Linked DNA regions of Homo sapiens: region 1 is linked to region 2. Evidence: fine-mapped expression QTL. A gene starts in region 2. The other region holds a variant in brackets. All regions are shown on one strand. Distances are from middle to middle. Region 1 overlaps RNF213 (ring finger protein 213). Region 2 holds the start of ENDOV (endonuclease V).

The links.
Region 1: its variant is fine-mapped to the expression of ENDOV in unexposed skin (GTEx, PIP 0.96).

What each region holds. Positions count from the first base shown.
Region 1 is chr17:80,386,755-80,398,916 of GRCh38, forward strand. RNF213 (ring finger protein 213) reads left to right here. Exons shown (of 68, transcript NM_001256071.3): 63 at 1-137; 64 at 1,858-1,935; 65 at 2,419-2,613; 66 at 3,074-3,163; 67 at 3,258-3,442; 68 at 6,591-12,040. The coding sequence ends at 6,744. The region is part of intron 1 of RNF213-AS1 (RNF213 antisense RNA 1); the gene reads right to left. Among named protein-coding and RNA genes, the nearest start is that of ENDOV, 22 kb to the right of the region's middle. RefSeq lists enhancers at 8,515-9,016, 10,662-11,169, 11,170-11,676. The variant T/A (reference allele first, on the strand shown) is at 5,341.
Region 2 is chr17:80,408,027-80,420,188 of GRCh38, forward strand. It overlaps ENDOV (endonuclease V), which reads left to right and starts at 7,141. Exons shown (of 10, transcript NM_173627.5): 1 at 7,141-7,224; 2 at 7,624-7,795. The coding sequence starts at 7,169. It overlaps RNF213-AS1 (RNF213 antisense RNA 1), which reads right to left and starts at 7,142. Exons shown (of 2, transcript NR_029376.1): 1 at 6,903-7,142. It overlaps MIR4730 (microRNA 4730), which reads left to right and starts at 11,392; the gene lies at 11,392-11,467. RefSeq lists an enhancer at 7,574-7,663.

The DNA of each region.
Region 1 (12,162 bases), 21 kb before region 2:
TGACTCCACTGATTCTCTCCAACTGCCAGTACCAGGTGGAGGAGGGCAGAGAGACCGTGCAGGAGTTCGATCTGGAGAAGATTCAGCGGCAGATCGTCAGCCGCTTCCTCCAGGGCAAGCCCCGGCTGAGCCTCAAGGTAGGGCTGACTCCTGCCACTGCTGCTCATTTGGTGTGTCTGTTGTGAACAAGCAGCCCTTGGTGTGTTTCTCGAGAGAGGGAAGCAGCACCTCACCCTGCAGTCTGGTCTGTATCTCCTCCCTCACACCTGCAGCTCCCGAGGCCACCACGCCACCTGTATCTCCGGGCCGCAGGGCTCTCCTGAGCCCTCTCCTGCAGGGCCATCTGCACCTCAGTCCCCCAAGGAACTGTTGAGGTCTTTTTTTGAAACAGGGTCTCACTCTGTCACCGAGGCTGCAGGGCAGTGGTGCCAAGCCTCCACCTCTGGGCTCAAGCGATCCTCTCACATCAGCTTCCCAAATAGCTGAGATCACAAGTGTGCACCACCATGCCCAGCTAATTTGTGTATTTTTTGGTAGAGATGGGGCTTCACCACGTTGCCCGGCTGGTCTCGAACTCTTGGGATCAAGGGATCCACCCGCCTAGGCCTCCCAAAGTGCTGGGATTATAGGCGTGAGCCACTGCACCCAGCTGATTGTTGAGGTCTTGATTCTACCAGTTAATGGCACCACCACCCCCACAGCCCCTCTTCCTTCAGCCTCCATGGGTAACCTGCCAGCAGATGCCATTAGCTGTGCCTTCTGTGTGTCCTCACCTGACTGCCAAAGCCCACCCTGTAGTTAAAAGCATCCTGTACGTTGGACTGCTAGCCACTCCTAACTGGTGCCCACCTCCAGGTTCTTCAGTCCACGGCCTAAAACCCACATCTGGCTCTCTTCATCCTGTGCCGGATGGACCTGCCTGGCCTCTCATGGCATATGGGATAAAGCCGACACTCTGTTGTCTGGTATGGGAGGCCCTGTAGCTCGGCCCAGCCCAACCTTCCAGCCCTGCCTCCAGCCACTTAGCCCATTTCCCTGAACTGCATCCCGTGACCTCATGCACTGAAGCCACACAGCAGGCACTTTCCCATCTCTGTTCTTTGACTGGACGCACTTGTTCCTTCCAGCTGCAGTCATATCTACTGTACTTATGTACGGTACCACCCGCAACTGGGCCAGGAACTGTGAGAGCCCATGGATTTTTTTTTTTTTTTTTTTTTTTTGAGACGGAGTCTCGCTCTGTCACCCAGGCTGGATTGCAGTGGCGCAATCTCAGCTTGCTGCAAGCTCCACCTCCCGGGTTCACTCATGCCATTCTCCTGCCGCAGCCTCCCGAGTAGCTGGGACTACAGGCGCCCGCCACCATGCCCGGCTAATTTTTTTGTATTTTTAGTAGAGACGGGGTTTCACCATGTTAGCCAGGATGGTCTCGATCTCTTGACTTCGTGATCTGCCCGTCTCTGCCTCCCAAAGGCTGTTTTTAATTCATTCTCACAGCCATTTCCTCTGGCAGAGTGACTGCCTGTGCATGGTCTGTGCCTTTAGTGGCTGAATGAATAAATGAATGGGATATGCACAAATACCTGTTGCCCTAGCGCCTCCTGTGGCGAAGCAGGCCACGATGATGTGACAATATCTTGTCATGTAATTGGCTGTGAGGACTCCGCTGGATTCCCGGTTGTGTTACTATTTCCATAGATGGTGGGTTAATGACGGAGAGGGGCGCTCTTAGCCAAGGGATACACAGGGCAGCGCGGCACTACGCTGCAGTTTTCCGGCTGCAGATTCTGTTTGTCATCTGCTGGAAATGTCCACGATGGATTTAATTTTAAAAAACTTTTTTCTTTCCCAATTTAGGGAATACCCACTCTGGTGTACAGACACGACTGGAACTATGAACATCTCTTTATGGACATCAAGAACAAAATGGCACAGGTGATCCCGATAAACCTGATCCTGTGCACGGGGCTTTCTGCCTTCTCAGTGTGTTTCCCTCCGTGTTAGGCCTACTCCAGCCTTGCCCCGGGTGTTTGCTGTGAGCCCACAGTTTCTGCGGCCTCCCTTACAGAGAGCAAGCAAGACAGCAAATCAGCAAGTTTTCTTGTAGAGTAAAAGCAGATTGACATCTTGTGGGTTTGATTCTTAGGAATGATGTTGATGCATGGCCATGCCTGCTGAAGCGGGAAGTCCATGGAACCGATTTGTTCCTGCTCTCCGCATGCGGGTACTGATAGGTAGACCTGTGTGTCTCCATGGCCTCCAGGAACTGCCTGCACACCGTGCGCCCAAGTGTCAGCTGTTAGAGAGTTGGCCCCCCGCATGTGGCTTGGGCAGTGAAGGGGCTCGGCTCTCTTACCAGGTGGTGAGATGCCAGAAACCCAGCCCACAGACATCCCTCTCCTGCTTTTCATTTCCCAGGACTCCCTCCCCAGCTCGGTCATTAGTGCCATCAGTGGACAGCTGCAGTCCTACAGCGATGCCTGTGAAGTGCTGTCTGTCGTAGAAGTCACTCTGGGGTTTCTGAGCACAGCTGGTGGGGATCCAAACATGCAGCTGAATGTGTATACTCAAGACATCCTGCAAATGGGTGATCAGACGATTCACGTGTTAAAGGTGGGTCTCACACCGAAAAGGAAATCAGCACAGCCCCTCACCCTGGTCTCCTGCTTCCCGCGAGGGATAGGAGCATTCAGGGAGTGCCACTCTAGGCGCTCCTGAAAAGGATGGGGAGACAAGAACAACTGCTCACCCAGTCAGTCCAGCATAAACAGGACACACCAGGGACAGTAGAGACAGACACGCGCTAGAAATGCCAGCAGTCTAGATAGAGCCCAAATGTGACTGAGTACATGAGGCCCCTGCAAACAGCGTGATGTGAGCGGGCTGTGAGGTGCCGCAGGAGGGAACTGGTAGATAGGACAGAGATGGCCTTCACAAGGAGGGAGATCACATTAGTACAGGGCAGAACGAAGAGAAGAATGCCTGTGTGGAGAGCACTCAGGCTCCCTGGTGCACGACATGAGTGGGGGTGTGAGACCTCAGCCCCCACTCAGGAATTCTATTCCTTCTGCAGGCCTTAAACAGATGCCAGTTAAAACACACCATTGCCCTCTGGCAGTTCCTGTCTGCTCATAAGTCTGAACAGCTGCTGCGGCTGCACAAAGTAAGTCTGGTCTCTTCCTCTCTGCTGGACAGAGGGACTGCGCTCCCTTCTCCCTGCAGGCTTTAATGCTTCATTTGCTCTTCCGTCGTTTTAGGAGCCATTTGGGGAAATCAGTTCAAGGTACAAAGCGGATCTGAGCCCGGAAAATGCTAAGCTCCTCAGCACATTCCTAAATCAGACTGGCCTAGACGCCTTCCTGCTAGAGCTGCACGAAATGATAATCTTGAAACTAAAGAACCCCCAAACCCAAACCGAGGAGCGCTTCCGCCCTCAGTGGAGGTATGGATTTGCACACCTATGGGGCGGGGCAGACACAATGTTGTGCTGTCTCTCCTGTGATCTTCTATAGACACAAAAATAGTTCTTTTCTTACCACAGAATCCCATTTCCTGCTTTTTGTCATTACCAGGGCACCTGAGGACTGGCTTTTTGGTTTTAATCTCTACTGGGTTTTCTTTAAGCAATTACACAAGTGTTTTTCAGACAAGAGTCTTGCCCTGTTACCCAGGCTGGAGTGCAGTGGAGTAATCTCAACTCACTGCAACCTTGGCTCACTGCAACCTCTGCCTCCCAGGTTCAAGCGAGTCTCATGCCTCAGCTTCCCAAATAGCTGGGACTACAGGCGTGTACCACCATGCCTGGCTAATTTTTGTATTTTTAGTAGAGACAGAGTTTCACTGTGTTGGCCAGGCTGGTCTCGAACTCCTGGCCTGAAATGATCTGCCCGCTTTGGCCTCTCAAAGTGCTAGAATGAAAAGGCGTGAGCCACTACACCCAGCCTAAAAGTCATATATTCTAATTTTATAACAAGTAGACTATGTCAAAGAGAGGTACATTTTAAATTTGATAGAAAAAGCTATCCTAGGCCGGGTGTGGAGGCTTACCCTGTAATCCCAGCACTTTGGGAGGCCGAGGTGGGTGGATCACCTGAGGTCAGGAGTTCAAGACCAGCCTGGCCAACTGGTGAAACTCTGTTTCTACTAAAAATACAAAAATTAGCCAGGCATGGTGGTACACACCTGCAGTCCCACCTACTCAGGAGGCTGAGGCAGGAGAATTGCTTTAACCTGGGAGGTGGAGATTGCAGTGAGCTGAGATCGCACCACTGCACTCCAGCCTGGGCAACAGAGGGAGACTTCATCTCAAAAACAAACAAAAAAAAGAATAGAAAAAGCTATACCAATGTATAAAGAGTGTATGAGAATACTCAACATTGGATATTATCCATCTTTTACATAGTTGCCAATCTAAAGGCCAAAATGGTATCTCATTTTCAGTTGTATTTCCCCATTTACCGTGAGGCTGAACATGTTTTTTATATTTATCACCCATTTGTATATCATCCTCTGAATTGCCTTTATGTTTTATTTTTTGAGACCGTGTCTCACTCCCACCCAAGCTGGAGTGCAGTGGCGCAATCTTGGCTTAGTGCAACCGCTGCCTTCTGGGTTCAATCGATTCTCCTGCCTTAGCCTCCCTAGTAGCTGGGATTACAGGTGCCAACCATCACGCCCAGCTAATTTTTTCTATTTTAGTACAGAGACGGGGTTTCTCCACGTGGCCAGGCTGGTCTCGAGCTCCTGACCTCAAGTGATTCACAAGCTTTGGCCACCACACCCAGCCTAAATTACCTCTTCGTATCTTTTTCTTTTGCGCTTTGTCTCTGTAATGGTTGTGAGAGCTCTTTGCATAGAACAGGGGTTCATCTTCTCTGCCGTGTGCCACAGTGCTCTATTTCAGCCTTTAATTTTATGAAGTCAAATCTGACAGAATTTTCCTATAAAGGGTCTCTATACAAAAACACTTACTAGGATCTTCCTTATCCCAGGATTATAAACTAGCCTTTTTTTTTTTTTTTTTTTTTTTTTTTTGAGATGGAGTCTTGCTGTGTCATCCAGGCTAGAGTGCAATGGTGTCATCTTAGCTCACTGCAACCTCTGCCTCCTGGGTTCAAGCGATTCTCCTGCCTCAGCCTCCCGAGTAGCTGGGACTACAGGCATGCACCTGCCCGGCTAATTTTTTTGTACTTTTAGTAGAGACGGGTTTCACCATGTTGACCAGGCTGGTCTCGATCTCCTGACCTCAAGTGATCTGCCCGTCTCGGCCTCCCAAAGTGCTAGGATTACAGGCGTGAGCCACTGCGCCCGGCCTGTCCTCTCTCTTCTTGTGCTTTCACA[T/A]ACTTGTTTTATTCACCAGTTTATGTTTAGGTGTAAAGTAAGGATTTAACTTGATGTTTTCCTGACTAGATCATCAAACTCCAGTCTTCCTCACCAATATGTTTCCTATTTGCTATCTTCCTCCATTATGCTATGTGGCATATACCATATACATTTATGTTCTTTCAACTTTTTCAACAAGTCTTTACTAGCCTGTGCTTTTCATGTAGATAAAAAAGATCCCTTTCCTAGAGAATTTCCAGTCTTTGTTAATGTGAAACATGTAATAGAATACAAGGTTTTTTGAATGGTGAGGCCTTGTTTATGCAACCCTGTAAATAAACATCACCTTGCTAGAGGGCCTAAAGTCATGTGAAGGGGCCAGCACAGGGCTTGCTCCGTGGGCTTCTGTCGTGTTTGTGTACTGCATGTGGGAAGCAGCAGTCAGGCACCAGAGCCTTGAACCCAGGATGCTAGTCCCAGTTCAGGAGCTCAGGTCATTGACCTTAAACTGCTCCTCAGGATTTCTGGGTTTTTTTTTTTTCTCGCTCTGTCGCCCAGGCTGGAGTGCAGTGGTGCAATCTCGGCTCACTGCAAGCTCCACCTCCTGGGTTCAAGTGATTTTCCTGCCTCAGCCTCCCGAGTAGCTGGGATTACAGGCACCCACCGCCATGCCTGGCTAATTTTTGTATTTTTACTAGAGACAGGGTTTCTCCATGTTGGCTAGGCTGGTCTCGAACTCCTGACTTCAAGTGATCCACCTGCCTCAGCCTCCCAAAGTGCTAGGATTATAGGCGTGAGCCACTGCGCCTGGCCTAGGATTTTAAGTCTTAACGAGCATTTTGGTTCTGCTGATGACAACGGGAAAAAGTAACATGAGGGGACTGATTGGTCCCCTTATGTTATATGGGAGCCTTTTTTTTTGAGACAGGATCTCACTGTGGCCCAGGCTGGAGTGCAGTTGTGCAATCTCAGCTCGCTGTAGCCTCCACCTCCTGGACTCAAGTGGTCCTCCCACCTCAGCCTCCTGAGTAGCTTCGGACTATAGGCATACACCACCACGTGCCCAGCTAATTTTTGTATTTTTGCTAGAGACAGGGTTTCGCCATGTTGCCCAGGCTGGTCTTGAACTCCTGACCTCCACTGACCCACCCACCTCAGCCTCCCACAGTGCTGGGCTTACACACGTGAGCCACACAGTGCTGGGCTTACACACGTGAGCCACCATGCTGAGGAGACTGTTTTAAATGCTCTCTTCTTTGGTTTTTCAGCCTGAGAGACACTCTCGTAAGTTACATGCAAACTAAAGAAAGTGAAATTCTTCCTGAAATGGCATCTCAGTTCCCAGAAGAGATACTGCTCGCCAGCTGTGTCTCAGTGTGGAAAACAGCTGCTGTGCTGAAATGGAATCGAGAAATGAGATAGAATTATTTCCTCAGCTATCTTTGGATGACTTTGGAGAGAAGACTCCTCTCTCCTCGTCTGCGGCGTGGACTTGATCATGGACTGGTGCCTTTGCATTCAGAAGGAGAGCTGTCAGCGTAGCACCGAATTCAAGACCAAGGCGTGCTACCTGAGCTGACAGCTTTTTGAAAGCCGAGCTGTTTCTGAACCATGTACATACATGTTCTGAAACTTTCTCATCATTTTATGAGTACTGTTCATTGAGAGATGACAATGAAGATTAGATGAAATTGGAAATAAACCAACATTGTTTACATTCCAGGAGACTTGTAGCTCAGCCACACACGCAGTAATGACCTGTGCCCGTTCGCCTCTGGCACTGCCCACCCCTCTTTTTTTTTTTCTTCTAATTCTGTACTCACAAAAGAGAATCTCATTTTCTTCTTTCTTCCATTCCCTTAAATTCTGAGTACTGTACATATATTTCTGGGTTCCCACGATGATGTGAAAAACTACCAGACTGTTTTTTGTCTTCTCACAAAGACAAGAAAAATCAGGGCATTTTGTGAGTGCCTTAAGATCAAACTAACAAGATCTGACCCTCTCCCCTCACAGTGAGCCACTGCCCCACTTCAGAGGGTAAGAGCCAAAAGCCTCATTGTGAAAGGCACTGGACTTGGACCAGGGACACCATCAGGGCCTTGGTTTTCTCACGCATAAAATGGAGAGTGGATTAATCGCCAAAGATTCTTCTGATCTGACATTTTGAAATTGTGAGAGAAACTAGATGACTGTAAACTTGGTCACAGGCCTGGTTCTGGCAGTTCTTTGCGGACTTTTTTCTAGCATTATGCCAAATAAACATGCAGTCTCAGTGTGCTCTCGCATGTATGAATATCTAGTCCTTTCTGTGGTTCTCAGCCAAGACATAAAAACTAGGACTCAGAGCACATACAAAACCAGTTATGTTTCGGAAAGAGGGAAAAGAGTCCCCGAGCCCGGATCTTGTGCTGCTTTTCTCACTGACGTGTTGCCTTTTTTCTTTACAAAATCTGCTTTGATACTTAGGACCTCTCTGGACTAATTTCTCTTCCTAGACAGCTCAGCACAGCTATTGATATGTTAGAGGCAGTATCCTTAATATTCATTCTAAATGAGTTAACGACTTAACTTGAAATTGGGCCTAAGGAGTGAGAACTACAAAAATACAAAATGCTTGTCCAGGACTCAGCCATGCACACCTTGAGCAGCGCCGGCAGGAGGCACGGAAGGAACTGTGCTCCGTTCTCCTCACTGTCATGGTGCCACCAGTGTCTGATGAAGGGCAGAGTGACCCAGACTGCAGGCAGTAACTGACTTCACACAGTCCCTGGCATTTAGTCATCTGTGATTGTTTTATCACTCTGGACTGTGCAGAGCCACCTGCCACCGAGATCTGCATTCCGACTGCCTATGAACGGGTGTGGGGGCCGGGGGCTGGCTTGCTGAAGTCTTCAACTTGCACTCGGAGCTCCTTTGATACCTCAGAGCTGGCTGTCAGGTGGCAGCTCACACCCAGACTCACTGGCCACACCTCAGCAGGGGGGGAGTCGAGTGTCAGTCTCTTTCTGTGAAGGCTTTTTTTTTCCTTTGGCCTGGGAATTTTTCCCATTTTTATGAAGGGGTTTTAAATTGTTTCATTTTGTGTGCTGTGCTTCAAAGCCTTAACTGTCAAATCTTGCATTATCTTGTTTGTACAGAAATATACTGGCCTAGCAGAGGCAAAAAAAAAAAAAATGAATTTTATTTTACTTGTCACACCTGTCTTAATAAACTGGAGTTTTGCTGCTAAAGAACTCTTCTCTCTGGGGGCAGAGCTTCTATTTATGGCACATAGACATCAGCTAGGCTTTTGGGAATCGTTTGTGTTCTTTGTGGAAATGTCCTTTAGAAGCACCCATGAAGTAGTGTGTTCAGACTGTGCACACAGAAAACAGGCTCTGCCTTCACATGTGAGACGGTGGACTTTTCCTCTGGACAAAATGACAGCATCCTGGCGACTCCACAGTGGAGCTGAGCGCCACTCCCTGTAGCCGATCTGGGACTGAAACGCTTACACCTCTGCCTCAGAAGGAGTCCCCCATGCCCTGCCTGAAATGACTTCACTGGACACAGCGGGGCTGCAGCTAACGGGGTACAGGTAGGAGCTAACTAACTTCACCCCTGAGTCCACTTGCGGGGTAAGAGATAAACAGTAACCCTTCCAGGAGCCCACTGACGTTGGAGTGCTAAAAATGCCCCTTCAGGGGGAAAACTGCATTTTCTCTTCCAAAAAGGAAAGGTTCTTCCAGGCGAGAAACCTGTGGTCTAGAACCACAGCAAGAAGAGGAGGCATGCTGGCCTGCACCGGAAGACTCACTTTGTCTGCCCTGCGCCAGCCTCACCTCACCCTGCAGTTCCCGTTTCCGCCATGGATGCCTCATCACCAACCCTGACCTTCCCCCTCCCAACCCTTTATTCATCCTCACTCCCACTCATACCCGCCTCCCTGGACAGTTCCCTGCTGCAGAGTTCTTTCTGCTTTCAGCCCTACCTTGGTGGTGATTTACCTGAAAATCTTCACAACTGATCATTATCTCCTTCTCTTTGAGACCTGACTGAAAAAATTAGGTGTGCACACCTGTAATCCCAGCTACCTGGGAGGCTGAGGTATGAGGATTGCTTGAGCCTGGGAGTTTGAGGCTGCAGTGAGCTATGATTGCACCACTGCACTCCAACCTGGGTGACAGAGTGAGACCCTGTCTCAAAAAAAAATAAAATAAGGACCTTATTGTGTGTGCAAATTATTTGCCTTTCATGAATAGTTATGAGACTTTGTGCATGTGTTAACCGAGACGGCCCTGAGCTATTTCAGTTACTCCTGTATGTTCAGGCAATTCCAATTTAGAAACAAACTTCCAGTGATAAATATTGGGAAGAAAATGTCAGCTCAGGGCCAAGTAGGTAAAGCCACCCAAGTCTAGCCATGCACACAGGCACTAGTGTGCTGAAGGAAAACACCTCTGATTTGATACATAAAGTGTGAAGGTTGCATAACTGGGGAGGTGGCTGGAGAAAACCTGAGCCTCGAGCTGAGTAACAATCCAAGCCATGATTAGCATTTATATTGCATTCTGCATTATTCTCATCCTATCACGTTCATTAAGTTCAACCATTACCATTACGAATCCCGTTTCCAGCTGGAAAAACAAGCGCCAGGAAAGTGCATTTCCCCCCCACCCCCCCCCCCCAACCAGAGCAACTTTGGTCAGAAGTCACACCTAATCACCCTCTCTGCAGGATATGCTGGGGATAGCCCTTTTGAGGAGGTGGGGGTGTATGCGAAAGCAACCTGGGGCCAAAGCAGGGGGAAGCAGGAGAGACTGGAGGGGCCCTGGGTCCAGCAAGTGCTCCACCAGGCTGCCCCTGCTCAGGTGCTCCACAGCCCATAAAAAACGCCTTCAGCCCTGCTGTGCTTCCCCTCACACCTAAACTTACTATAAGGGTCCTACCTTCCCCAGTATTCCTTCATGATCACTGCTACCTGTGCCCTGAAGCGCAACAGAACCTCAACCCAGAGGACAGCCACTTCCTCAGAACCCACGATCTTTGCCCCATCGCCACAGGTCCATGAGTGACTCCTAATTACCAAATCCAAGGGCTCCTTCACCCTGACCACTCTGGAACCCAACAAAGCTGACACACAGCCCAGCCCAGACAGGCCTGAATGTGGGTCCTGGCTCTCCCATTTGCCAGTTCTACAGCCATGGGCAAGTGGCTCGACCTCTCTAAGCTTCAGTTTCCTCGTCTGTGAAATATCTGTCAGTGCTCTTAAGGGAGGAGACCACCCCACATATTGTCTTACGCCCAATTTCTGCCTCCAAAGAGAGAAGTAAAAACTAAAAGGCAGAAATGAAATCCACAAGCAGACAGCCTGCACCACACCCTGGGCCTGGTAGTTAAAGATCGACGCCTGACCTAATCAGTGATGCTATCTATAGATTACAGACATTATATAGAAAAGCACCGTGAAAATCCCTGTCCTGTTCTGTTCCGTTCTAATTACGGGTGCATGCAGCCCCCAGTCACGTACCCCCTGCTTGCTCAATCAATCACGACCCTCTCACGCAGACCCCTTAAGAGTTGTGAGCCCTTAAAAGGGACAGGAATTGCTCACTCGGGGAGCTCAGTTGTTGGAGACATGAGTCTTGCCGAAGCGCCCGGCTGAATAAAGCCCTTCTTTAACTCGTGTCTGAGGGGTTTTCTCTGCAGCTTGTCCTGCTACATTTCTTGGTTCCCTGACCAGGAATCTAGGTGATTAATGGATGGTTGAGGCAGCCCCTCAGACGGCTTAGGCCTGCCCTGTGGAGCATCCCTGTGGAGGACTCCAGCCAGCTTGAGCGACATGGATCCTGAGAGCGCTCTCAGGCAGGCAATTGCCCCAGTGGAATGCCTGGCCAGAGCAGTGTGTAGCAGGCCCCCGAGGAGGATCAACGCAGTGGCTGAACACCGGGAAGGAACTGCCACTTGGAGTCCAGACATCTGAAACTTGGTAAGACTGGTCTTTGGAACTTGCCCACTCCATTTGAGGGGAAGCGTGGCCTGATCACCCACGGCGTGCCTGTACTGGCACTCTGGTTTTTGTTTTTGACTTGACTTGGATTGCTTGATACTTTGGTTTTGGTTTTGACCTGACTTGGATATCCTGATACTCTGATTTTGGTTTTGATTTTGGTTTGGTGTAAACTGTAAAAGTGTGTGTGTGCCCTTTTTACCTGTTCTTTGTTTTGTGGTATGCGTGTAGGGTGAGCGTAATGTTTTGTCTTGAAGAAGCATGGGTCAAGCACAAAGTAAGACCACCCCACTAGGAACTATGCTGAAAAATTTCAGGAAAGGATTTAAGGGAGACTATGGAGTACTATGACACCAGGAAAACTTAAAACTTTGTGTAAGATAGACTGGCCAGCATTAGAGGTAGGTTGGCCATCAGAGTGAAGCCTGGACAGGTCCCTTGTTTCAAAGGTATGGCACAAGGTAACCTGTAAGCCAGGGTACCCACACCAGTTCCCGTACACAGACACTTGGTTACAGCTGGTTTTAGACTCCCCACCCGCCCGCCCCAACAGTGGTTGAGAGAACAGCAGCATAAGTGGCTGGCAGAGGCAAGGAAAGACCAGCAGAGAGAGAAAGAGGAAGAGACAGACAAAGAGGGAGTCAGAGAGAGAGAGAGAAAGAGACAGAGGCAAAAGGAAAGTCAAAGAGAAAGAGACAGAAAATCAAGAGGAAAAAAAGAAAAAAAGAGATATATATACAAGTAGTTAGAAACAACAACAACACTGTACCCTATTCCTTTAAAAGCCAAGATAAATTTAAAACCTATAATTGATAATTGAAAGTATTCTCTGTAACCCTGTAACACTC
Region 2 (12,162 bases):
CTAACCCAACCGCCTACCCCAAACCTGTAAGAACTAATGATAATCCACCACCCTTTGCTGACTCTTTTCAGAATCAGCCCGCCTGCACCCAGGTGAAATAAACAGCCTTGTTGCTCACACAAAGCCTGTTTGGTGGGCTTTTCACACGGAGGCGCTAACACAAGGTGTATAAGAAAAGTAAATATACCTTTGGTAAAAGGATTATAAGAAGGCATAAGAATGTAAATTTTTACCTAGATTAAAAGGTTAAAAAAATTGTTTTGAAGGTTTAAGCAAGTTTTAAAACATTAATTATAAAAAAATTCTGTGTGTAAACGTATTAGCTAAAGTTAAAGGGGTATCATCCAGTTTTTCTGTGAACTGGACATTAAAGTAAAAACACAATGGGTTTTTCTTAAAGCACTAACTTGCTCTTTAACAAAGATTATAAAAGGTTAAAAAGAGTCTATAAAAATCTTACCTTACGGTCTGACATTAAAAATTGAATAAATATGTATACAAAGTTTTATTAAAACTAAGTTTAACATTAATAGCACACTAATATAAAGGTGAAATTTAGCTTATCTGGTATAAAAATCATACAGAAAGCATTATTAAATATAAAACAGTGTTTGGCTTTCTTTGGTCCAAAAACTAATAAAAATAGGTGGTAAAGGAAATTTCTCAGTAAAAAGGCACCAAAGCCTATAAAGTCCACTCTTGATGTCCCCACATTTGAAACAAAAAATCAATTTCTTAGAAATTATATACTTGGTTTGTCTTCCACTTTCCTTTCCCTCAAAACTAAAAGCCTTTTAGCACAGGTGCCAGCCCTAGAATTTCCAGTAAACCAGCACCAGCCTGAAGATCACCTTCTTATCAAAGGGAGGAAAGAAAACAAATTTTTCAAAGGAAAAGTTTTTCTTATCAAAGGAAAGAAAGAAAACAAAGGGAGGAAAGAAAACAAGCCAGCCTAGGAAGGACCCGACCTTGTGCTGCTAACCACCGAGACTGCTGTCCCTACAGTGGAAAAGGGATGGACTCATCACACCCGAGTCAAAGCTCCACCCCCTCCGGAGTCGTGGGCCCCAGTCCAAGGGGAAAACCCTACCAAACTAAAGCTAAGAAATATTTAACTCTTTTATCTATTCTATTACTCTTTCTTCTTTCCTCGCTCTATTGCTGACCATCTGGTTATTAACACAACCAAATCAATTTCACCTCAAACTATTGCATTTAATGCTTGTCTTGTTATACCCTGTGGGGACTTGCCAAGTCGAAGACAGCTCTCTACTTCAGAAAAGTACTTCTGTCCCTCCTGACTCTCCTCAGACTGGGCATTAGTAAATTAGGACCATTTAATCCGGGGGAATTTCAATAAAGACTCCAGTGTCAACCAGGAGTCTTGCTCCCCAATGTAGAGCTTTTATGCCGTAGTTGGTCCAACATTCTGTGGACCACTAAAGAGCAAGAATGGACTGCCCCAACCAGTTTTTGTAATTTCCCAAAATCATACATTCATTTTACTAGAAGTTCATATTAGTTAAAGACTTAAAACAAACTTTGGCAATTAAGACAGCATACCAAGATGCAAATGCCTGGTTGAAATGGATCAAATATTCCATCCGCACGTTAAACAAAAGCAACTGTTACGCTTGTGCACATGGCAGGCCAGAGGTCCTGATTGTCCCCTTTCCACTAAGGTGGTCCTCCAGTCGACCAGGTGTGGCTGCATGGTAGCTCTTCTCCAGGATTCTACAGCCTGGAGTAATAAGTTGTGCCAAGCTCTCTCTGCTGTATCCGAAAGTCTGGCGCCTTGCGGGTCAGCCCCCGAGGGCCATCGAGCCGCCGTCTCCCAATACTAAGTTCACTTCGTGTCTCTCATGACAGGGAGGAAACTTAGCATTCCTTGGAAACCTGAAGGGATGCAGTGAGCTTAAAAATTTTCAAGAGCCTATCAATCAGCCAGCCCTTGTTCATCCCTGAGTGGATGTGAGCGGATGTGTGGTGGTATTGTGGTGGACCTTTACTGGGCACTCTGCCGAATAACTGGAGTGGCGCTTGTACTTTAGTCCGATTGGCTATCCCTTTCACCCTGGCATTCCATCAACCAGAGGGAGGAAAAATAAGACATCGTAAAGCAAGAGAAGCCCCTTATGGGTCTTTCGACTCTCATTTCCATTTAGACGCAATTGGAGTCCCACGGGGAATACTAGATCAATTTAAAACTTGAAATCAAATAGCGGCAGGATTTGAGTCAATATTTTGGTAGATGACAGTTAATAAAAATGTAAATTGGATAAACTACATCTATTACAACAAACAGCAACAAGCTTTTCATGAGTTAAAAGAAAAACGTAGGCCCCAGCCCTGGGGCTATCAGACCTGACAAAACCCTTTACACCCTATGTGTCAGAAAGAGAAAAAATGCAGTTGGAGTTTTAACCCAGACTGTGGGACCCTGGCTAAGGCCAGTGGCCTATCTCTCAAAACAACTAGACGGGGTTTCCAAAGCCTGGCCCCCGTGTCTAAGGGCCCTGGCAGCAACGGCCCTGTTAGCACAAGAAGCAGATAAACTAACCCTTGGACAAAACCTGAATATAAAGGCCCCCCACGCTGTGGTAACTTTAATGACTACCAAAGGTCATCACTGGTTAACAAATGCTAGATTAACCAAGTACCAAAGCTTGCTACGTGAAAATCCCCACATAACCACTGCAGTTTGCAACACGCTAAACCCCGCCACCTTGCTCCTGATATGAGAGAGCCCAGTTGAACATAACTGTGTAGAGGTGTTGGACTCAGTTTATTCTAGCAGGCGCAACCTCCGAGACCATCCTTGAACATCAGTAGGCTGTGAGTGGTACGTGGACGGAAGCAGCTTCGCCAGCCCCTGCAAAGTGACTCTGAGGAAGACGACAAGCCCTGCTCCAGTCACAACTGGAAGCTGACTGGTCCACACACGGCCGAAGCATGAGAAAACTCATCGTGGGACTCATTTTCCTTAAAATTTGGACTTGTACAGTAAGGACTTCAACTGACCTTCCTCAGACTGAGGACTGTTCCCAGTGTATACATCAAGTCACTGAGGTAGGACAAAAAGTTGCCACAGTCCTATTATTTTATGATTATTGTAAGTGTACCAGGACTCTAAAAAAAAAAAAAGTTTGTATAATGCTATTCTATGCAAGGTATGTAGCCCAAGAAATGACCAACCTGATGTGTGTTATGACCTGAGTCTCCCATGACCACAGCTTTTGAAATAAGATTAAGGACTGAGGACTGGTAGGGACTCATAAACGATACGAGTAAAGTGTTAGCCAAAATGAAAGAAAAAGGGGTGCCCAAACAAGTCACTTTAAAGTTTGATGCCTGTGCTGTCATTAATAGTAATAAGTTAAAAATAGAATGTGGTTCCCTTAATTAGAAAAGAGGCCATATGACAAAAAATAAGTACATTTGTCATAAATTAAAACTGTGTGGAAATAAATGTAAATACTGGTCTTGTGTCATTTAGGCTACTTAAATAAAAAATAAAAAGGATCCTGTCCACCTTCAAAAAGGAAAAAGTGGCCCTTCCTGTACCAGTGGTCAGTGTAACCCCTTAGAACTAGTAATAACCAACCCCCTTGATCCTCGCTGGAAAAAAGGGGAGCATGTAACCCTAGGAATCAATGGGGCTGAACTGGATCCTTGAGTAAATATCATGGTTTGAGGAGAAATTTATAAACGCTCTCCTGAGACAGTATTTCAAACCTTCTATGATCAACTGAATGTGCCTGCACCAGAAATTCCAGGAAAAACAAGACATTTGTTTTTGCAATTAGCCGAGCATGTGGCCCAGTCTCTCAATGTCACTTCATGTTATGTGTGTGGACGAACTGTAATGGGAGATCAATGGCCACGGGAAGCCCGAGAATTAGTACCTACAGACCCAGTTCCTGATGAATTCCCGGCTCAAAAGAATCACCCTGATAACTTCTGGGTCCTAAAAGCCTCAATCATTAGACAATACTGTATATAGCAAGAGTGGGGAAGGACTTCACCTTTCCTGTGGGAAGACTCAGCTGCTTAGGCAAAAACTGTATAATACTACTACAAAAACAGCCACCTAGTGGAGTTCAAACCACACTAAGAAAAATCCATTTAGTAAATTCCCAAAGTTGCAAACTGTGTGAACCCACCCGGAGTCCCACAGGGACTGGACAGCCCCCACTGGATTATACTGGATATGTAGGCATAGAGTTTACACCAAATTACCCGACCAGTGGGCAGGTAGTCATGTTATTGGCACTATTAAACCATCTTTCTTCCTACTGCCCATAAAGACAGGCGAACTCCTGGGCTTCCCTGTCTGTGCTTCCCGCAAAAAGAGAAGCATAGCTATAAAAAATTCAAAAGATAATACATGGCCCCCTGAAAGAATCATACAATATTATGGGCCTGGTACTTAGGCACAAGATGGCTCCTAGGGATACCCGACCCCCATTTACATGCTCAACCGAATCATACGGTTACAAGCTGTCTTAGAAATAATCACTAATAAGACCGGCAGAGCCTTGACTATTCTGGCCTGGCAAGAAACTCAGATGAGAAATGCTATCTATCAAAATAGATTGGCTCTCGACTACTTGCTAGCAGCTGAAGGAGAGGTCTGTAAAAAATTTAACCTTACTAATTGCTGTCTACACATAGATGATCGAGGGCAATTAGTTGAAGACACAGTTAGAAATATGACAAAACTGGCACATGTGCCCGTGCAAGTGTGGCATGGATTTGGTCCTGGGGCCATGTTTGGAAAATGGTTCCCAGCACTAAAAAGATTTAAAACTCTTATATTAGGAGTTACAATAGCAATAGAAACCTGCGTTCTGCTCCCTTGTTTGCTACCCATACTTCTTCAAATGATAAAAAGCTTCATCGCTACCTTAGTTCACCAAAATGCTTCAGCACAACTGTACTATATGAATCACTATCGATCTGTCTTGCAAGAAAACATAGGTAGTAAAAATAAAAGTGACAACTCCCACTACTGAGTGAGATTCTCAGAGAGGGAGAATAAGGGAGACCACCCCTCATATTGTTTTACGCCCAATTTCTGCCTCCAAAGAGAGAAGTAAAAACTAAAAGGCAGAAATGAAATCCACAAGCAGACAGCCTGCACCACACCCTGGGCCTGGTAGTTAAAGATCGACGCCTGACCTAATCAGTGATGCTATCTATAGATTACAGACGTTATATAGAAAAGCACCGTGAAAATCCCTGTCCTGTTCTGTTCCGTTCTAATTACGGGTGCATGCAGCCCCCAGTCACGTACCCCCTGCTTGCTCAATCAATCACGACCCTCTCACGCAGACCCCTGAAGAGTTGTGAGCCCTTAAAAGGGACAGGAATTGCTCACTCGGGGAGCTCGGTTGTTGGAGACGTGAGTCTTGCCGAAGCTCCCAGCTGAATAAAGCCCTTCTTTAACTCGGTGTCTGAGGGGTTTTGTCTGCGGCTTGTCCTGCTACACTCTGGTGGGAAAGACACCGCAGCAGGGGAGCAGGGTGCGCAGGGTGCAGTGGGTGACGCTCATTCGCTGAAAACTGACCCTGCTTTCAAAGCCTTGTCAGTTCCCAAAGCTGTATGAAGCCTTTCCTGAGCCTCAACCTCTAGAGTCTAATTTCATCCTCTGTATTTTCCCCTTTGTTAGTCCAAACTGCGTCATTTTGTAAGCCCCTTTCCATTTTGTAGACCTTGGTCAAAGTGAAACATTCCACGGGGGTTCGAGCCATGAGAAACAGCCTGCCTCTTAACATATTCTGCTGGGACAAAGCGCCAGGAACACCACATTCTGCCGGAACCACCTCATCCTGGGAACACGTTAACATCTTCCCGGACAGCAAGCCATACTGCCTAGATCCCTCCTGCCCAGGCCTATGAGTACCCCAGCCTGTAATCGCTGGTGGGCTCTGGCATTAAGCTGGCCCCCGACAGGTGTTTGCAATACACCTGTGTTGCTGTAGAGCCGCCCGCGCGCCGGCAATCTCACTGTGCGTCATTCTTTAACCTTCACCTTCCCTTCAAAACCTAACACCCTTGACGTTTATATTCAGGCTATTATATATACATACACACATACACCCTTCTGAATCCTCCCAGGAGAATATAAAACCATGGGTTAAACTGCTACACTTCAGCTTCAGTGGCTGCCTTTCAGTGCTTCAAATACACCAACCTCTTTCCCACCCCGGGACCTGCACGAGAAAGCTGCTCCACTCACCCGCCGTGCTCTTTCACTCACCCTTCAGGTGTCTTCAATATCGCCTCTCAGGCCTTTCCCAACCACCGGTTTAAAGTCGGCTCCCCACAAATAAATACATATTCTCCCTCACAGTACTTCGCACAACACCTGGCACAGCGAGAGCACTGAACCAACACTCATTCAATGAGGAACACGAGGTAAGAACCAAGACCCCCCAAGGTCGCCGTACTTTGTCTGGTAGGAGAAGCTTTCTGCCCAGCAAGGTCCGACCCAGATGAAACCCCGTCCAAGTCTGCAGCACCCCCGTGAGTCCAGCCCGCTAAACTGTGAAGAATTTAAATACACGACACCTGCCCTCAAAAGCTTGAGGGCACCCCTGAGCTGCCATCGAGGTGGGGGCGTCAACGACAGGCGCTCAGTAAGTGCTCCTGAGGCAACTGCCGGGCTGTCCTGGACCTGGTGAATCCTTTCGGGGTTCAGCAAAGGCGGACGCTGACCGGGCCAAGGAGTGGGACCTGCAGTGCTGGACCACCCTTTTCCAAGCGCAGAAGTGCCGTGCCCGCCGGCTCTCAACAGGGCAAGAGGCCCCTCTCGCCGTGCAGAGCGCAGCGCTTGCGGCGGGGACAGCAGAGGCGGGACGGGCGTCACGGAGTTCCCGGGTCCTCGCGCGGTCACTTACCTGGCCTCAGCTATCCGCTGAAAAAGGGGCGGACGGCCTCCCGGGATCCGAGCCGATATCGCGCGCGGCGCCGCGGGGCAACCTGAAGCCGTGTGCGTGCGTGTGCGTTCACGCAGGGGCTCACCCAGCGGCCACGGGCTTCTGAAGACCCGGGTGGGAAGTGCGGCCCGGGAAAGCGCAAGCGTCTCCATGGCAACGAGGGCGGACGGCGTCAGAGCGAGTCGCTTCCGGAAGTGACGTGCGGAAGGGGTGCCCGGGACGAAGCCATGGCCCTGGAGGCGGCGGGAGGGCCGCCGGAGGAAACGCTGTCACTGTGGAAACGGTAATGCTGTCAGGCGACGCGCAGGAGGCGGGGGCCGAGGCCGGGCGGCCCTTCGCGGACCCTCCGAGCTCATAGTCTTCAGGCTGTGGAATCGGAGCTGCCACCGCCCGAGACTCCAAAGCAAAGCCCAGTTTCCGGCGCGGAAGCGGAGGGATCTCAGGAATTGTAGTCCGCGGGGTGGGCGCGGTTCTCGCTTCCGGCCAGTTTGTCTGGCCTGCGCTTGCGCGGGTCTCCGCCGCCTGGGCTCCTAGGGACTGTGGCCTCGGCGGTATGTCCCTTGCTTTCCCTTGAAGCGGGAGAAGACCCGGCAGAGGCGCTCTGTCCGCTGCAGCCGCGCGGGTGGAGGAGGCAGAGTCTGAGGTGTGACCCCGACCAAGTTTGACGCTTCTGTCCTCCTAGGGAGCAAGCTCGGCTGAAGGCCCACGTCGTAGACCGGGACACCGAGGCGTGGCAGCGAGACCCCGCCTTCTCGGGTCTGCAGAGGGTCGGGGGCGTTGACGTGTCCTTCGTGAAAGGGGACAGTGTCCGCGCTTGTGCTTCCCTGGTGGTGCTCAGCTTCCCTGAGCTCGAGGTAACCTGGGAGGACGCCGAGCTCGAGGCGGGCCCCTCGGTGGGCTCGGGCGTGCGGTCTCCGGGACAGGGAGCAGTGCAAGCGTAGAACCCGGCTTCTCGTTTTGTAGGATGTCATTAATAGTCTGGGGAGTTGGCCGGGCGCGGTGGCTCACGCCTGCAATCCCAGCACTTTGGGAGGCTGAGGCGGGGGAATCACCTGAGGTCGGGAGTTCGAGACCAGCCTGACCAACATGGAGAAACCCGGTCTCTACTAAAAATACAAAATTAGACGGGTGTGGTGGCATATACCTGTAATCCCAGCTACTCGGAAGGCTGAGGCGGGAGAATCGCTTGAACCCGGGAGGCGGAGGTTGCGGTGAGCCAACATCACGCCATTGCACTCCAGCCTCGGCAACAAGAGCGAAACTCCATCTCAAAAAAAAAAAAAAAAAAAAAAAGTCTGGGGAGTCTTGGAAGGGAAAAAAAGGCAAAAATTAAGGGAATTCTGTGACTATTAAGAATCAGCTCATGAGCTTTATCTTCAAGTCTGATTGTTATCTTGGGTTCTTCATCTCAGTGACCTGTCCACCACGCTCCCAGTTGCCCAAGCTGGAGATCTGCATCCTCCTGGGCCCCTCCGTTCCTCTCGCGTCCAGTTGCACACTAGCTCGCTTTTATTCTGCCTCTTAAATGTCGCTGGAATCTGTCCCCTTGTCTGTTTCCCCTCTGCTCCTTCCCTGGCTGTGCCACCATCACTCCTGTGGGTTCCTGAGCAGCATTTTCATGGGTGCCCTGGCTCAAATGTTCCTCCTCAGTGGTTTCTTTTCCATACTGCCAGCAGACCAATTTTCCTAAAAAGCAAGTATTTTCCTCAAAAGCAACAAGTCCCCTCCCTCCCTCCCTCCCTCCCTTCCTTCCTTCCTTCCTTCCTCCCTTCCTTCCTCTCTCTGTCTCTCTTTCCTTCCTTTCCCCTTCCCCCACTCTGTGCCCAGGCTGAAGTGCAGTGGCATAATCTTGGCTCACTGTCAAGATCTGATCTCAACCTCCTGGACTCAAGTGATCCTCCCACCTTAGCCTGAGTAGCTAGGACCACAGGTGTGAGCCACTACACCCGGCTTATTTTTTTATTTTTTGTAGAGACAGGATCTCACTATGTTGCCCAGGGTGGTCTCCAGCTCCTGGGCTCAAGGGATCCTCCTACCTTGGCCTCCCCAAGTGCTGAGATTACAGGTGGGAACCACCACACCCAGCCCACAAGTCCTCTTAGAACATTGAAGTGCCCTTCTCATGACCTCATGGTGAATAAAGTTCACTCTGGTTGGCATGGCTTCAAGGCCCGTCATGACCTGTCCCCTGCGTAATTTAATATGACGCTGGAGGCTCAGCCCTCACCACTATTCTCAGTTCTTCCCACCTCCTACAGCCCACTGTGAGTCCCTCACGTGTTTGCTACGCTGTATTTGGCGGCCTGACCTTTGCAGTAATGTTTCTTCTGGAAGGGTTTCCATCTGGCTAACTACTACTCATCTCTTTGGGCTCAGTTTAGACATGACGTCCTCCACTAAGCTCCCTCTCATCCCACAAGACGAGGACTTGTCCCTCAGCACCATGTCTTAGTCCGTTTGGGCTGCTGTAATAGAATACCTTAGACTGGGTGGCCTACCCACAGCAGGAATTTATTTCTCACAGTTCTGGAGGCTGGAGGCTCAAGATCAGGGTGCCAGCGCAATCAGGTTGTGGTGACGGCGCTCTTTCAGGTTGCACAGGGCCAGCTTCTTAACCGTGTTCTCACATGGTGATCCACTCACCTCCCTAGAGGCCCCACCTCGTAATACCATCACCTATGGGTTATAATTTCAACATAGGAATTTGGGGAGGACACCAGCATTTAGACCGTAGCAACCCTCTGCTTCCTCTTGTCTTGCTGGGATGGAACTGGCCTGTCTTCCCTACTGGAATATAAACTCCATGATGGTAGAAACCATGTTGCTTTGCCCACCATGGATAGCATGAGGAAGACGCTGGACTCTTCCTTCAAGAGATACGTGTGTGAATGGACAGTGGGCTCATGATTCACATAAGAGTCAACAGCTCCGGAAGCCTCTTGGCGTCACTCGCATTGCTCCTCTGCTGACTCCCGAAGGTGACAAACGTCTTCCTGCTTCCATGGCTTTGTGCTTTACTTGGGAGGCCCTTTTCAGTCCAAATCAAGCAAAAATGTACTGAGTGCCTACTGTGTGCTAAGATTGGGATATTCAGCAGCCCCTACTCTAAGAGGTCCCCTGGCCATTGTGTAGGCTAGCATAGGGAGTGGGGACACAGTCTTAGGGTCCTGACTACTCATGCTCACACCCAACTCTGCCACTCCCCACTTTGCCCTCTAGGCCTCTGTCTCCTTTTTTCTGACTTGAGGATGATAGTGGTATTAATATCCAGCTCACAGAATTGTGATGAGCAGTACATGAAATGCATGGAAAGCAGTTAACACAGCATTCCCTTCCCCCTCCAACTTCTCCTGGCTGCAAATTAATCACCTCATCTGCATCCTGGGCCTCTTTTGAATGCACATGCTGTTAGAGCGCTTCTCACATTGTATTAAAGTTAGTCATTTATGATTCCATTTTTCCCACTGACTGTAGGTTCTCAAGAGTAGGGTGTACCATATTTCTTTTACAACCCCAGCACCAAGCAAAGCACCTGCTACTTCGTCGGTATTCATTGTTCCGGCTATGAAAGCTTAGACTAGGAAAGGATCTTGGAACAGTCTGGTCCACTGGTTCCTGAATGCCCGACCGTGGACCTGCAGGAGCAGAATCACCCAGAAGTGTGTTGAGAAACAGATTCCGTAGGCACATCCACAGAGACAGAAAGTGGATCCTTGGGCCTTGGAGTTGGGGTGGGATGGATGGGAAGTGACTGCTGATGAGGATGAGGTTTATTTAGGGGTTAAGGAAAATGTTCTAAAGTTAGATTGTAGTGATATTGCACAACTCTGTAAATACCAAAACCATCGCATTATATGTTTTAAACAAGTGAACTTTATGGTATGTTAATTGTATCTCAGTAAACCTGTTAGGAAAAAAAACAGGCCGGGCGCAGTGGTTCATGCCTGTAATCCCAGCACTTTGGGAGGCTGAGGCGGCTGGATCACGAGGTCAGGCGATCGAGACCATCCTGGCTAACACGGTGAAACCCTGTGTCTACTAAAAATACAAAAAAAATCAGCCGGGCATGGTGGCGGGCACCTGTAGTCCCAGCTACTCGGGAGGCTGAGGCAGGAGAATGGCGTGAACCTGGGAGGCGGAGCTTGCAGTGAGCCGAGATCGCGTCAGTGCACTCCAGCCTGAGCAACAGAGCAGGACTCTGTCAAAAAAAAAAAAAAAAAAACAGATTCCAGAGCCCTACCCCACTTACTGGGGGAAAAACTCTCCCAGAGTATAGCATAAGAATCTGCTTTTTAAAATAAGCTTTCCTGTGATTCTGAAGCAGAGCTGGGCTGGAGAACCACTGGCCTGCTTTTCCCACCGTGAAGAACACTGTCCTTAGCATCCCTGACAAACGATGGCGGAGCCCGTTCTGTGCCAGATGCTGAGCCATGGCTGGTGTGTGCTGCTCCGCAGGCCTCTGGCGGAGCCCATTCCATGCCAGATGCTGAGCGATGGCTGGTGTGTGCTGCTCCACAGGCCTGGTGGAGCCTGTTGTGTGCTGGACGCTGAGCAATGGCTAGTGTGTTCTGCTCCGCAGGGAGCTGACTCCTACTTGTCTGTGACTCCCATCGATCAGTTCTGCCTTCAGGTAGCAAAACAGAACGGATCTTCCCTGCCTTCTGCTTGTCAGCCCTTCTGCTGCTGGAAACAGCTGCCTGCTCCTTGACCACACTGTCCCAAGAGGCTGCGATGACGTCCAGCTTCTTCACTGGTCAGTGGCCCTCTGGTCATGCCCTCCGTTCACACAATCCATCTTTCCGTCTGCACTCAGAATCAAATGCAGGAACTTGGATGTGGTCTACCCAAGTCCCTAGACCTAACTGTCACCCACGCCATTTCAGTCGGTGTAGCTGGAAACACTGGTAGCTTTTGAGGGGCACCAGGTCACTGGCTTATGTTGAGATTGCTGGTCATCCAGACCTGCCCCCTACGCTAATCATACAGTGATTTTTCTTTTCCCAGATTTTTAATTTGAAAATGTACATACATCCCCCCAAATTGGAAAAGGATACGTTGGACACCTGTATTCCTTCTACTTAGGTTCAGCTGTTGCTGCTCTGGAATATTCTCTCTCGCGCACATGCGCTCTTTGTGTGCGTGTGTACCGTACATCCCAGCGACTGTGACAGCTCAGAAGACATCAGCAGGCCTGTCCTGAGAATGACATTCTCCTCCACAG